Linked DNA regions of Homo sapiens: region 2 is linked to region 1. Evidence: fine-mapped expression QTL. A gene starts in region 1. The other region holds a variant in brackets. All regions are shown on one strand. Distances are from middle to middle.

Region 1 (8,088 bases):
CCATCGCACTCCAGCCTGGACAACAAGAGCGAGACTCCATCTCAAAAAAAAAAAAGTATAAACTTTAAGTGACAGCGCAATGAATTCTGACCAACGTATTCACACAGAGAACAGACCTGACATGAGCGAGCAGCTGCAGGTAAGGGTTGATGGGAGCCCAGGGTGCATGGAAGTCGCCCAGGCAAGAGGGGAAGGCTCGGGGCAGGGGTGAAGGAGCCCCGAGGGTCAGCAAAGGCCCTGGACCTGCCTCAATGACACTCAAGGAGTCATCGCCAGGTCAACGCGGACAAACAGCACGGAGCTTCCGAACCGAATGGAATGTATGGAATGCCATGGGATGAGCCGCAAGTGAAGCGTGACTCACCCTCGTTCTAAAGAGTCAATGTAGGGCCGCAGGACTGTATACGGCAGAGCCAGGATACGCCGTGGTCATCTGTACATATTTCTATCCATGTATTAATCGATCCCGAGAAATCAGGCTGGACGACCAAGCACACTTACCACACTCACTGCCGTTCTCGCTGGATGTCACAATCATTGAGCTTCATGACCTAAGAACAGGCCCTGAAAAAAACCCTTATCCTGCATAGTCAGAGGACAGAATGTTCCGGTCAATCAGATATTTTGACAGGAATAGTTTCAATATAAAATCCAGCCAGGCTCGGTGCCTCATGCCTGAAATCCCAGCACTTTGGGAGGCCCGGGTGGGAGGATTGCTTGAGGCCAGGAGTTCCACACCAGCCTGGGCAACACAGCCAGACTGTCTCTACAAAAAATTTTAAAAATTGGCCAGGCGTGGCTGGGCGCAGTGGTTCACCCCTGTAATCTCAGCACTTTGGTAGGCCGAGGCAGGCAGATCATGAGGTCAGGAGATCAAGACCAACCTGGCTAACACGGTGAAATGCCATCTCTACTAAAAATACAAAAAATTAGTCAGGTGTGGTGGCAGGCACCTGTAGTCCCAGCTACTCAGGAGGCTGAGGCAGAAAGAAGAATGGCGTCAACCCAGGAGGTGGAGCTTGCAGTGAGCCAAGATCGCACCACTGCACTCCAGCCTGGGCAAAAGAGTGAAACTACGTCTCAAAAAAATAAATAAATAAAAATAAAAGGAACAAAAGAAAGCTAGAGAATATACTACGCTAGGGAAACATGAGCACACTTATATAAGGAAGTATATGTTTCCTGAGTACATATATGAATAAAATGTGAAAACAGAACTAAAACGGTCCATCCCAAACTGAGAACAATGGTCACCTCTCAGGTACAGACAGGAGATGATGGCAATTAGGATGGGACTTTCACTTAATCTACAATGTTCTATTCTTTTTTAAAGAAAATACATTTGTCCATGTATGGCATAACTGAAAATTAAGTTTTTATAAAGAGGGTTGCCCTAGAGAGCATTCACAGCTTAAGCTTCAAAGAATTCAAATAGAATGAGACTCTTAATGTGGAAAAGTACAACAAGCACATTTTTTTCTGGCAACACCGAAGATGCAGGAGATTTCACAGTTCCCACATGAATACCACCAGTGGGCTCTGGCTGTGTGGCCAAAACTCTAGAGAAGAGGAAATTCACTGTATACCCGTAAGGCACAACCACTCCTTCAAACCAACCTTAGTGAACGTGTAAGTCACACACATAGTCTCCGGACAATATTCAGAGACTTAACTTTTTTCTTTGCTGTTTTTGTTTTTGTTTTCTTTTTTAAAAATTTGAGACAGGATTTCGCTACGTTGTCCAGGCTGGTCTCTAGCGCCTGGGCTCGGGCGATCCTCCCTCCTCAGCCTCCCCAAGTGCTGTGATTTCAGACGTGAGCCACAGTGCTTGGTCTCAAGGCTGAGGTTTTCTCACTCCAGCCCACCCAATCAGGGTCCCCATCAACACACATTCCCTTGACATTGCCCACTTTGGGCAAATTACTTACCTCTGGATTTTAGTTTTCTCAATGTAAAAAGACCTGCGAGGCCGGGCGCGGTGGCTCACGCCTGTAATCCCAGCACTTTGGGAGGCCGAGGCGGCTAGATCACGAGGTCAGGAGATCGAGACCATCCTGGCTAACATGGTGAAACCCCGTCTCTACTAAAAATACAAAAAATTAGCCGGGCGTGGTGGCGGGCGCCTGTAGTCCCAGCTACTCGGGAGGCTGAGGCAGGAGAATGGCATGAACCCGGGAGGCAGAGCTTGCAGTGAGCCGAGATCACACCACTGCACTCCAGCCTGGGCGACAGAGCGAGACTCCGTCTCAAGAAAAAAAAAAAAAGACCTGCTATACCACTTCACCCACCTGCCAGGATGACGACCAAGTTTCAAACAGAAGGACAGTCTACGTCCCAAGAGTCTGTGAGCCCCACTTTCAGACTTGCCTGGTTACAGGAAAGGGCACTGTGAAGCACTGCCTTGTCCCAGCAACCCCCATCTGTGGATCCCATCAGCACTCCTGATGAAATCACCACTGCCCCCAGAAAAAGCCAACTACCTACAGGAATTCCAGGCCACACCAAAGGGAGGGCGGTCTCCCAGAGACACAGCTCCCTCAGGTGTACAGCGCTCAGACTATCTCTAAATTACACCATTATGGTAGCCTCTGGAGTCTACTTCTGTGAAGCCTGAAGGAAACACAGTCCCCTACACCTGCAGAGGACCCCTCCAGCAATGCCAAATTGCTTTACAAGCTGAGATAGCAGCAGCATTCCGATCCAATCACAGCCTACCTGTTCCCAAGTGACCCCTCGGAAAGGGTCCCGCCTGAGACTCACGCTGGCCTCCAACATGTGACTTCATGGACACAATGTTCTAATCAGCGAGAACTATCACGTGCCTCCCCTTACACTGATACAAGGGAAAGGAAAAAATAACTGAAGACCCATTCTGAAAGGCCCTTCTTTCTAGACACAGTCTTCACATCGAGGATGCCCACCAAATGCAACAATCCCTCCCCTGCTCCCCGCTGCCGTTTCTCGCCGACGAAGAAACTGTCTACCAACCCTCCAGAGCTCACTTCAGTCATCACCTCCTCAGCGACACCTTGCCAGACCTCCCCACAAGGGGATTCCCCAATCTTGTCCCCCCCCACCAAGAAGAAACCGTAACTCACACCAACACCCACCTACATCTCTTCTCTGGCAGCTAGGACCACAGGAAGGAACATCCAGAAATAAGGGGCACCCTCCTGTATTCCTTCTAATGTTTAGCCTCGTTTGTTTTGTTTTGTTTTGTTTTTTTTGAGGCGGAGTCTCGCTCTGTCGCCCAGGCTGGAGTGCAGTGGCGCTATCTCGGCTCACTACAAGCTCTGCCTCCCGGGTTCACGCCATTCTCCTGCCTCAGCCTCCCGAGTAGCTGGGACTACAGGCGCCCGCCACCGCGCCTGGCTAATTTTTTTTGTATTTTTAGTAGAGACAGGGTTTCACCGTGTTAGCCAGGATGGTCTTGATCTCCTGACCTCGTGATCCGCCCGCCTCGGCCTCCCAAAGTGCTGAGATTACAAGCGTGAGCCACCGTGCCCAGCCATGTTTAGCCTCATTAACCCAAATCCCTTAAAGAGAAATACAAGAGGCCAGGCGCGGTGGCTCACGCCTGTAATCCCAGCACTCTGGGAAGCTGAGGTGGTTGGATCACCTGAGGTCAGGAGTTCGAGACCAGCCTGGCCAACATGGTGAAACTCCGTCTCTACTAAAAATACAAAATTTAGCCGAGTGTCATGGTGGATGCCTGTAATCCCAGCTACTCAGGAGGCTGAGGCAGGAGAATCGCTTGAACCCGGGAGGCGGAGGTTGCAATGAGCCGAGATCGCACCATTGCACTCCAGCCTGAGTGACAGTGAGAATCTGTCTCAAAAAAAAAAAAAAAAGAAAAGAAAAGAAAAAGAAAAAAGAAAAAGACAGAAATACAGGCCAGGCACGATGGCTCATGCCCGTACTCCCAGCACTTTGGGAGGCCAAGGCAGGAGGACCGCTTGAGGCCAGAAGCTCCAGACCAGCCTGGACAACATAGCAAGATCCCATCTCTACAAAAATAAAAAAAATTACCGGGCGTAACTGCACGCGCCCGTAGTCCCAGCACTTTGGGAGGCTAAGGCGGAGGATCACTTGAAAGAGAGAGAAAAGCAGCTACACATCTATAGATTCGGTTCACAGATGAGAAAACAGAGGTCCCGAGAGGTGAAATTACTGGCCCAAGACCACACAACCGACAGGAGCTTGGGAGAGAGGATGTGGCTAGGAAAGGCGCCCAAGTCCGGGGAAGTGGCCCCCAGTGCCATCGCTCAGCGTGACCAGGCAGGGCAGAAGAGCAGGGCACCAGGAACGGGGCGAGGAGGAAACTGTCCCCGAGGACGCCTCTGAGAGCCCCGGGAAAGCGCCTCGGAACGCGGCCAGCTGTAACCTGGACAGGGCTCTCCCGGCGCAGGAGGGCAGGGGACCCCGAGGGACGGAGGCGCGAGAGAGCACGGGGACCCCCAAAGGACAGGCGCGCAGGAGGGCAGGGGGACCTCCGAGGGACTGGGGCGTGGGGCCGAACGCGGGGCGCGGGGGCAGGAAACGAGTCGGGGACCAAGCGCGGCGGCTGAGCCCCGTCCGCCGGGGGTGGTCGGGCCGCGCGCCCTGGGCAGGTGGGGGCTACCGCCGCCCCACGCCCTACCTGACGCCGGGGGATCCGCCTCCTCGTCAGCCTCCGCCTCAGCTGCCGCCCCGACTGCAGCCGCGGGCAGCGGGTCCATCGCGCGGCCAGTCATGTGAGCCCGCGCTCCCACGTGACTTCCTCCCGCGCCACCCGGCCGCGCAGCCCTGCCGCGCCGCGCCCTCGCCCCGCCCACACCCCGCCTGGTCACGCCCCCTCCCCCGCGCGCCACGCCCACAGTCCGCCCCTGCGGGCCCGCCGCGCTCCTCGCCCGGCCTCGCCACGCCTACAACCCGCCTAGCCACGCCCACATGCCCCTCCCCGTCCACGTGGACACGGAGCCTGCTGGTGGCGCAGGTTACCTCCCCTCAGGTTGGACCTCCGGACTCGCAGGTGCACTACCTCAGGCGCAAGCCTGCACCCACCGCACCCTCATTCACTCCCATCTCTCCTCGCCCAGTCACGCCCTTGTTCGCTCATTCACCGGTTACACTGGGGTTTTCTGACTCGCACTTCCTCATTCATCCACTCACCCACTCATTCGCTCACCCACGCACTGCATCCTGCATTCATTCATTCACCCACTCACTCACTGCATCCTACATTCATTCATCCACTCACACACTCACTCACCGCATCCTGCATTCATCCAGCCACTCACTCACTCACTGCATCCTGCAATCATTCACCCACTCACTCACTGCATCCTGCATTCATTCATTCACCCACTCACTCACTGCATCCTGCATTCATTCATTCACCCACTCACTCACTGCATCCTACATTCATTCATCCACTCACACACTCACCGCATCCTGCATTCATCCAGCCACTCACTCACTGCATCCTGCATTCATTCATCCAGCCACTCACTCACTGCATCCTGCATTCATTCATTCACCCACTCACTCACTGCATCCTGCATTCATTCATTCACCCACTCACGCACTGCATCCTGCATTCATTCACCCACTCACCCACTCACTCACTGCATCCTGCATTCATTCATTCACCCACTCACCCACTCACTCTCTGCATCCTGCATTCACTCATTCACTCACTTATTGCATCCTGCATTCATTCACCCACTCACCCACTCACTCACTGCATCCTGCATTCATTCATCCACCCACTCACTCATGCACTGCATCCTGCATTCATTCATCCATTCACTCACTCACTCACTTACTGCTTCTTCATACGTTCATTCACCCACTCACTCACTGCATCCTGCATTCATTCATCCACCCACTCACTCATGCACTGCATCCTGCATTCATTCATCCATTCACTCACTCACTCACTTACTGCTTCTTCGTACATTCATTCACCCACTCACGCACTGCATCCTGCATTCATTCATTCACCAACCCACTCACTGCATTCTGCATTCATTCAGTCACTCACTCACTGCATCCTGCATTCATTCATTCACCCACTCACTCACTTACTGCATCCTACATTCATTCATTCACTCACTGCATCCTGCATTCATTCATTCACCCACTCACTCACTTACTGCATCCTGCATTCATTCACTCACTCACTAACTGCATCCTGCATTCATTCACTCACTCACTAACTGCATCCTGCATTCATTCATCCACCCACTCACTCACTCACTGCATCCTGCATTCATTCATCCACTCACTCACTCACTGCTTCTTCATACATTCATTCACCCACACTCACTGCATCCTGCATTCATTCACCCACTCACTCACCCACTCACTGCATCCTGCATTCATTCATCTACCCACCCACTCACTCATGCACTTCATCCTGCATTCATTCACCCACTCACTCACTCACTGCATCCTGCTTTCATTCACGCAACCACTCACTCACTGCACCCTGCATTCATTCACCCACTCACTCACTGCATCCTGCATTCACTCACCCACCCACTCACTCACTGCATCCTGCATTCATTCATTCACCCACTCACTCACTCTGCATCCTGAATTCATTCACACAACCACTCACTCACTCACTCACTGCATCCTGCATTCATTCACCCACCCACTCACTGCATCCTGCATTCATTCATTCACTCACTCACTCACTCATGCACTGCATCCTGCATTCATTCACGCAACCACTCACTCACTGCATCCTGCATTCATTCACCCACTTACTCACTGCATCCTGCATTCATTCACCCACTCACTCACTCACTGCATCCTGCATTCATTCATTCACCCACTCACTCACTCACGCACTGCATCCTGCATTCATTCACACAACCACTCACTCACTGCATCCTGCATTCATTCATTCATTCACCCACTCACTCACGCACTGCATCCTGCATTCATTCACACAACCACTCACTCACTGCATCCTGCATTCATTCATTCACCCACTCACTGAGTCACTGCATCATGCATTCATTCATGCAACCACTCACTCACTCACTGCATCCTGCATTCATTCATTCACCCACCCACTCACTCACTGCATCCTGCATTCATCCACCCACCCACTCACTCACTCACTCACTGCATCCTGCATCTATCCACCCACCCACTGGCCCACTCAGGTTTGCTGGCTGCCACCAGGAGGTCAGGAAGCCCTGTGCTGGGTGCTGAGAATACAAAGATGTTTCCTGTGCATTCCTTGATCTGGAGGAGGCACAGATGGCCAGAGTGGAGCAAGTGTGCTAACTGTTCCAAAACGGGAGCAAGGCTGTGCAACACACCGCAGAAGAGGGTGAAGGGTGAAGGGCGATCCCTTCCCTACATGGGTGAAGGGATCCCTGGATGGGTGGTACCAGAGTTAGGGCTGGAGGAATAAGGAGTTAAGTAGGAGGAGGGCACGAAGGCTCTGAGACATCAGCTGCAGATGCTGTGGTCATTCCAGGCTAAAAGTGTGGGGTTTGGCATGGAGATTGGTAGGCCTGCATCAGGAAGGGCTTGTTTCCAAAGGAAGGATCCTGGACCTTCTTTTTTTTTTTTTTTTTTTTTTTTTTTTTTTTTTTTTTTTTTTTTGAGACAGAGTCTCACTCTGTTGCCTGGAGCGGAGGGCAGTGGCATGATCTTGGCTCACTGCAACCTCCGCCTCCCAGGTCAAGCGATTCTCCTGTCTCAGCCTCCCGTGTAGCTGGTATTACAGGCGTGTGCCACCACACCCAGCTAATTTTTGTATTTTTGTAGAGATGGGTTTTCACCATGTTGGCCAGGCTGGTCTCGAACTCCTGACCTCAAGTGATCCGCCCACCTTGGCCTTCCAAAGTGCTGGGATTACAGGTGTGAGCCACCGTGCCCGGCCATCCTGGACCTTCTAACGCTGATGTCACACAATGTCCGGGGAGTTGATTACAGAACCAAGAGCCCAGAACCATGTCAGTTCCTAGGAAGCGTCCCCTTCTCACAAGGTAGTTACTTCCTCTGGCTATAGCTGCTGGACCCTGCCTCGGTAACAGATGACTGCACCTAGGACGCCATAGGGTCCCCGCACACCAGGACCTC
Region 2 (8,088 bases), 46 kb before region 1:
CTTCCCCAAGTCAAAGGGATCTTTTTTTTTTTTGAGACGGAGTCTCGCTGTATCACCCAGGCTGGAGTGCAGTGGCGCGATCTCGGCTCACTGCAACCTCCGCCTCCTAGGTTCAAGCAATTCTCTGCCTCAGCCTCCCGAGTAGCTGAGATGACAGGCACCCGCCACCACGCCCAGAGAACTTTTTTTTGTATTTTTAGTAGAGACGGGTTTCACCATCTTGGCCAGGCTGATCTTGAACTCCTGACCTCGTGATCCACCCACCTCGGCCTCCCAAAGTGCTGGGATTACAGGTGTGAGCCACCACGCCTGGCCTGGGATCTTTTTTTAAAGTCTCATCCTGACAGTGAAAAAACTACCAGACTAGAAACTGGTGAGCATTTACTCGTGCTCAGAAATCCGTGTTTCAGGGCCGAAATTCTCCCGTGTTTCTTCCAAATATGACCCCCCATGTGCCTGAGCCACTTTCTGCCCCTTCTGAGATGAAACAGGTCAGGATGCTGGTTATTACGGTAAACGCACTTTCCGCCCAAGCCCTTCACCAGCATGGATTCCCGTCCCACCGCGCGTGCCCCTGCAGAAGCTGAAAGGTCACCTACCTTAGCTCCTTCCCGAATATGAGAAGATCTGCCGCATTGTCGATGGCCCGCGATGCGATCCGCTCGGCCCTGTCGCGAAGCTTGTGAAAGCTATTGTAGATGTTCCGGATCAGCTCCCGGCTGATGGCAAACTGAGCCTGGATGTCAGCTGGGAGGAAGTCCTGACATCATGATGGGGGGAGAGACACTGTGTTAGTCGCTGGGGAGCACCTGTCAGACGGCAGCAGCCGGTCCCCCAGAAGCTGAGCCACGGGAGACACAGCAGGTCCATGAGCCACCCCGGGAGCCCCACTCCTCCAGGCCTGCAGGGATCACTCTGTGTGTCCAAAAAAGAAACAAAAACCATCATCACCTGCATGCCACAAACACAAAGACAAATGATCCCATGGGATGAGGACCACAGAGTCCACTGAAATCTCATCACACTGGAGGACCTATCCAAAAACACTCAAATAAGGCCAGGGGCAGTCACTCACACCTGTAATCCCAGCACTTTGGAGGCTGAGGCAGGTGGATCACCTCAGGTCAGGAGTTCAAGACCAGCCTGACCAATATGGTGAAACCCCATCTCCACTAAAAATACAAAAATTAGCTGGGCATGGCGGCATGCACCTGTAATCCCAGCTACTCCAGAGGCTGAGACAGGAGAATTGCTTGAATCCGGGAGGCAGAGGTTGCAGTGAGCTGAGATCGCGCAACCACACTCCAGTTTGGGCGACAGAACGAGACTCTGTCTCAAAACAAACAAACCAACAAAACACTCGAATAATAATCTTGCCGGGCGCAGTGGCTCACGCCTGTAATCCCAGCACTTTGGGAGGCCGAGTAGGGCGAATCACGAGGTAAGGAGATCGAGACTATGGTGAAACCCCATCTCTACTAAAAATACAAAAAATTAGCCGAGCCTGGTGGTGGGCACCTAGTCCCAGCTACTTGGGAGGCTGAGGCAGGAGAATGGCATGAACCCCGGAGGCGGAGCTTGCAGTGAGCTGCGATCACACCACTGCACCCCAGCCTGGGCAACAGAGCGAGACTCCGTCTCAAAAACTAACAATACTAATCTTTAGCTGGATACAGTGACTCACACCTGTACCCCAGCGCTCTGGGAGACTGAGGCAAGAGGATTGCTAGAGCCTGGGAGTTTAAGAACAGCCTGGGCAACATAGTGAAACCCCATCTCTCCCAAAAAATCAAAAAATTAGCCAGGCGTGGTGGAGCGCCTGTGGTCCCAGGTGCTTACAGAGGGCTGAGGCAGGAGGATCACTTGAGCCCAGGAGTTCCATGCTGCAAGGAGCCATGATCACAACACTGCACTCCAGCCTGGGGACCCTGTCCCCAGAAAACAACAAAAATAAAAACAAACAATCTTCAAGTTAAACACAATGAACATAAATTCCTGAAAGACTCTCCACATGGGGGGAAGGCCTCTTCTATGCCGCGTTTATTCCCAAAGACTTTTTATAAGATTTGATACTAACTATCAGAGTTCAGAAAACAGAAAGCTCAGAGAGTAAAATGAAGGTAAAAGATTTGGCCAGGCATGGTGGCTCATGCCTTTAATCCCAGTACTTTGGGGGGCCATGCCAGGAGGATTGCTTGAGGCCAAGAGTTCAAGACCAGCCTGGGCAACATAGTGAGACTTCATCTATACCAAAAACAAACAAACAAATCAGCCAAGTACTGTGGTGCATGCCTGTGGTCCCAGCTATTCTGGGAGGCTGAAGTGGGAGAATTGCTTGAACTCAGGAGGTCGAGGCTGCAATGACCTACGATTGCACCACTGCACTATAGCCTAGAGGACAGAGCAAGACCTTGTCTCAAAAAATAAAATAAAATAGATTTTTAATTTTTGTATGAAGAAGCAGGTTTTTTTCTGGTTTTTTTGTTGTTGTTGTTGTCGTCTTTGACACAAAGTCTCACTCTGTTACCCAGGCTGGAGTGCAATGGCACGACCTGGGCTCACTGCAGCCTCTGCCTCCTGGGTTCAAGCAGTCCTCTTGCCTCAGCCTCCCAAATAGCTGGGATTACAGGTGCCTGCCACCAAGCCTGGCTAATTTTTTTTTTCTTTTTTTTGATGGTGTCTCTGTCGTCCAGGCTGGAGTGCAGTGGCGCAATCTTGGCTCACTCCAACCTCTTCCTCCTAGGTTCAAGCAATTCTCCTGCCTCAGCCTCCTGAGTAGCTGGAATTACAGGTGCACGCCACCGCACCCAGCTAATTTTTGTATTTTTAGTAGAGGCGGGGTTTCACCATGTTAGTCAGGCTAGTCTTGAACTCCTGACCTCGTGATCCACCCGCCTCGGCCTCCCAAAGTGCTAGGATTACAGGCGTAAGCCACCACGCCCGGCCGGTTTTTTGGGGTTTGTTTTGCTTTTTTTTGTTTTCCTTTTTTGTTTTGTATTTTTATTAGAGATGGGGTTTTGCTATGTTGGCCAGGCTGGTCTCAAACTCCTGACCTCAAGTGATCCGACAGCCTCAGCCTCCCAAAGTGCTGGGATTACAGGAAGGAGCCACCGCGCCAGCCTGAAGAAGAGGTTTAAAAAGAAAAAACCAAAAACAAAAAAACTACCAAGTAGCTACCTTAGTCTTTTTTGGAAAAAGACCAAACTTTAAACATTTAATAATAAACAAATGTAACAATGAATCCCCAGAAATCTGAAAAGGTGCTGACACAAGCATCCGTCTGTCTGAGTCACAGAAAAGGGCAGAGGGCACGAGGTGCCTGGAGGGCCTGAGGGCAGAGCTCAGCCGCAACCCGGCCCTGCTGCTTAGAGGCTCGGGGCCTTGGCAAATGACAGCCTCCCTGAGCCTGTTTCTCCATCCGTAAAACAGGCCTCCCAGCCCTGTGTCGGAGCAACTGAAACGAGGGTTAAATGAGGAAACCATGCGACAGATGTCAGCATAATCCCTGCCAC[G/A]CAGAGGAGGCAAAATCACTTTGAAGGGTTAAAACTTGTTTCTCTGGTTAAAAAGGGATGTACTCTTCAAAGTTAGAAAAATACCTTGGCCCTCTCCCTCCCCCTCCCCCTCCCCCTCCCCCTCTCCCTCTCCCTCACCCCACAGTCTCCCTCTCATGCGGAGCCGAAGCTGGACTGTACTGCTGCCATCTCGGCTCACTGCAACCTCCCTGCCTGATTCTCCTGCCTCAGTCTGCCGAATGCCTGCGATTGCAGGCACGCGCCGCCACGCCTGACTGGTTTTGGTGGAGACGGGGTTTCGCTGTGTTGGCCGGGCCGGTCTCCAGCCCCTAACCGCGAGTGATCCGCCAACCTCGGCCTCCCGAGGTGCCGGGATTGCAGACGGAGTCTCGTTCACTCAGTGCTCAATGGTGCCCAGGCTGGAGTGCAGTGACGTGATCTCGGCTCACTACAACCTACACCTCCCAGCCGCCTGCCTTGGCCTCCCAAAGTGCCGAGACTGCAGCCTCTGCCCGGCCGCCACCCCGTCTGGGAAGTGAGGAGTGTCTCTGCCTGGCCGCCCATCGTCTGGGATGTGAGGAGCCCCTCTGCCTGGCTGCCCAGTCTGGAAAGTGAGGAGCGTCTCCGCCCGGCCGCCATCCCATCTAGGAAGTGAGGAGCGCCTCTTCCCAGCCGCCATCACATCTAGGAAGTGAGGAGCGTCTCTGCCCGGCCGCCCATAGTCTGAGATGTGGGGAGCGCCTCTGCCCCGCCGCCCCATCTGGGATGTGAGGAGCGCCTCTGCCCGGCCGAGACCCCGTCTGGGAGGTGAGGAGCGTCTCTGCCCGGCCAGCCACCCCGTCCGGGAGGGAGATGGGGGGGTCAGCCCCACCACCTGGCCAGCCGCCCCGTCCGGGAGGGAGGTGGGGGGGTCAGCCCCCCGCCTGGCCAGCCGCCCCATCCGGGAGGGAGGTGGGGGGCGTCAGCCCTCCGCCCGGCCAGCCGCCCCATCTGGGATGTGAGGAGCGCCTCTGCCCGGCGAGACCCCGTCTGGGAGGTGAGGAGCGTCTCTGCCCGGCCGCCCCGTCTGAGAAGTGAGGAGACCCTCTGCCTGGCAACCACCCCGTCTGAGAAGTGAGGAGCCCCTCCGCCCGGCAGCTGCCCTGTCTGAGAAGTGAGGAGCCTCTCCGCCCGGCAGCCACCCCATCTGGGAAGTGAGGAGCGTCTCCGCCCGGCAGCCACCCCATCCGGGAGGGAGGTGGGGGGGGTCAGCCCCCCGCCCGGCCAGCCGCCCCATCCGGGAGGGAGGTGGGGGGTCAGCCCCCCCGCCCGGCCAGCCGTGCCATCCGGGAGGGAGGTGGGGGGGTCAGCCCCCCGCCTGGCCAGCCGCCCTGTCCGGGAGGGAGGTGGGGGGGTCAGCCCTCCGCCCAGCCAGCCGCCCCGTCTGGGAGGTGAGGGGCGCCTCTGCCCGGCCGCCCCTACTGGGAAGTGAGGAGCCCCTCTGCCCAGCCAGCCGCCCCGTCCGGGAGGGAGGTGGGGGGGGTCAGCCCCCCAGCCCGGCCAGCCGCCCCGTCCGGGAGGTGAGGGGCGCCTCTGCCCGGCCGCCCCTACTGGGAAGTGAGGAGGCCCTCTGCCCGGCCAGCCGCCCCGTCCGGGAGGGAGGTGGGGGGGTCAGCCCCCCGCCCGGCCAGCCGCCCCGTCCGGGAGGGAGGTGGGGGGGGGTCAGCCCCCCTGCCTGGCCAGCCGCCCCGTCCGGGAGGTGAGGGGCGCCTCTGCCCGGCCACCCCTACTGGGAAGTGAGGAGCCCCTCTGCCCGGCCACCACCCCGTCTGGGAGGTGTGCCCAACAGCTCATTGAGAACGGGCCAGGATGACAATGGCGGCTTTGTGGAATAGAAAGGCGGGAAAGGTGGGGAAAAGATTGAGAAATCGGATGGTTGCCGTGTCTGTGTAGAAAGAAGTAGACATGGGAGACTTTTCATTTTGTTCTGTACTAAGAAAAATTCCTCTGCCTTGGGATCCTGTTGATCTGTGACCTTACCCCCAACCCTGTGCTGTGTCCACTCAGGGTTAAATGGATTAAGGGCGGTGCAGGATGTGCTTTGTTAAACAGATGCTTGAAGGCAGCATGCTCGTTAAGAGTCATCACCACTCCCTAATCTCAAGTAATCAGGGACACAAACACTGCGGAAGGCCGCAGGGTCCTCTGCCTAGGAAAACCAGAGACCTTTGTTCACTTGTTTATCTGCTGACCTTCCCTCCACTATTGTCCCATGACCCTGCCAAATCCCCCTCTGCGAGAAACACCCAAGAATGATCAATAAAAAAATAAATTAAAAAAAAAAAAAAAGAAAAAAAAAAGAAAAATACCTTGGCCCTGGTAGCCAGCTTACAGTTCAGGAATTCGTCCCCGACGCACTGTGCTGACTCCTTTAACTTGTTCTGCACATCCTGCAAAAGGAAAACACACAGCTTCACCCTCTTCTACTAGCAGCAAGAAAGCTGCTGTGGGGTATGGGTCACTGTGGAGCGGGAGGTCGTCTTTCCTCAGGAGAAACACATTTCCATATGTTGGCTTTGACATTAGTATTCTGCAATCTCTTGACTCTCCCTTAGATGTTTTTCTCACCAAACAGGACAGCCTGGCTTCACAGCAGGAGCACCACAAACCTGCAGCCTCTCTCCAGAGGCACAGCCACTCCATCCGCAGACGGGGGGCAGCTCTCCAGAGAAACAGCCACTCCATCCACAGACCAGGGGCGGCTCTGCAGAGAAACGGCCCCTCCATCCACAGACCCGGGGCGGCGTCAGCCCCAGAGATACCTGAGACCCTGGTAGCTTCCAAAAACGCAATAGAACAGGGCAAAAGTGTCTTCCTTCCTGGGAATGCATCCATGGCGCCAGGGACACCAGAGCCCAGGGAGCTGCTGGGCAGAGGGACAGGCCCAGCCCCTGGCACCGGAGCCCTCTCATCTGAAAGAGGCCTCCTGGGCAAAGCCGTGCCTTAAAGTCAGGAGCCACCCAGGAGATACAAGGGGAAACCCTAATATGCAGCTGTTTGCGTGTCCAGGAATTCTCAGGTTTCAGAGATGCCTTAAAGATCATCTGACTCAACTCTCATTTTACAAAAAAAAAAAAAAAAAAAAAAAAAAAGACCTGAGGCCCAGCATGGTGCGTGCCTGTAGTCCCAGCTACTCAGAGCCTGAGGCGGGAGGATCGCTGGAGCCCAGGGGTTCAGGGCCAGCCTGGGTAACATAGTGAGACCCCATCTCTAAAAACAGAAAGCAAGCAAGAAAACTGAGGCCGGGAAGTGACAGAGAATGATACCTGTGGGAAGGCCACAGGGAACGTCCTGCCCCCAGAACAGGGATATTGCCCACCTGTGACCCACTGCACCCCTGCCCACCGCCCCTCCCAGGTCCTGCCACATTCCTCTGCTGGCAATGCAGATCGCCTCCAAAGGAAGGTTTCCAACCCCAGGGCTCAAAAGATCCCACTGCCTGCTCCAGACATCCCCGGGGGCATCCCAGGGACATCTCAGGCACAGGGGGAAGGCCCCTCTGCCTCCGAGAGGAACGAAGACAAAAGGAACCAAGGCTTGTGTGAAGTCAGCCTGGGAGAGGGGGTGTCTTCCTGCAGCAGGGACAAGGACAGAGGCCGTCAGGTCCCCATTCAAGACGGGGTTTCCCTGAAATAGAGGAGAGCCTGGAAACCTCTATTCCAGTGGAGCCCCCGCCCCTCCCCGCACAGGGAGAGGGTCCTGCAGGCACAGGTGGAGGAGAAGCACAGGACCCGCCTTCCCTGGAGGGGCTGGCAGCTGCTTCCTCCTCCAGGAAACAGGAGCTGGGCTGCAGGGTTGTTTTTTGTTTTTTTGAGACAGGGTCTCACTCTGTCGCCCAGGCTGGAGTGCAGTGGCACAATCACAGCTCACTGCAAGCTCCACCTCCTGGGTTCAAGCGATTCTCATGCCTCAGCCTCCCAAGTGACTGGGATTACAGGTGTGCACCACCATGCCTGGCCTCAGTTTTGTTTTGGTAGAGACGAAGTCTCGCTATGTTGTCCAGGCTGGTCTCAAACGCCTGGGCTTAAGGGACCATCCAGCCTCGGCCTCTCCGAGCGCTGGGATTAGAGGCGTGGGCCACTGTACCTGCGAACTGTAGCTTCTTGACACACAATAAGGCTGTGCCGCAGCAGCTGGGAGGAGGGAAGCCCCACTCAGACCTCTGACGGAGTGCATGTACAACAAGTTAATTCCCGGATGCAGGTGTGGGCTGTGGCTCTGACAAGGAGGCTCAGCCTGTGTTCCAGTGGTCCTTAGTCAGACAGGGCCTTGTTTTAAGTCAACACTTCTTCCCATCTGGAGTCTCTGGCACCTCCCTAAACCCTCCAAACCATCCAGCCTAAATCCTCAAAGTGACCACAGAGATCCATGATCTCCACGCGGATTTACAAAATCCTGCAAAGTCAACACCAGGGACACCTCTGAAAATCACATTCAGACTGTTATCTGGAAAGGAAAGAAGTCTTGTCCATGTCATTCCTGCTGGGCGTCCAAACAAGGGACCAGGAGGATAAGAAACCACACCTGAGAGAGGAAA

Evidence for each region. PIP is the estimated chance that this variant, and not a neighbour inherited with it, causes the effect.
Region 2: its variant is fine-mapped to the expression of SNX8 in lung (TOPMed, PIP above 0.99).

What each region holds. Positions count from the first base shown.
Region 1 is chr7:2,309,689-2,317,776 of GRCh38, forward strand. SNX8 (sorting nexin 8) reads right to left here and starts at 4,753. Exons shown (of 11, transcript NM_013321.4): 1 at 4,640-4,753. The coding sequence starts at 4,733. RefSeq lists enhancers at 1-300, 301-811, 812-1,320, 2,403-2,472, 2,493-2,662 and 4 more and silencers at 4,429-4,668, 4,769-5,038.
Region 2 is chr7:2,263,699-2,271,786 of GRCh38, forward strand. It overlaps SNX8 (sorting nexin 8), which reads right to left. Exons shown (of 11, transcript NM_013321.4): 5 at 5,861-5,941; 6 at 600-760. Among named protein-coding and RNA genes, the nearest start is that of MIR6836, 10 kb to the left of the region's middle. RefSeq lists enhancers at 6,359-6,969, 7,579-8,088. The variant G/A (reference allele first, on the strand shown) is at 3,513.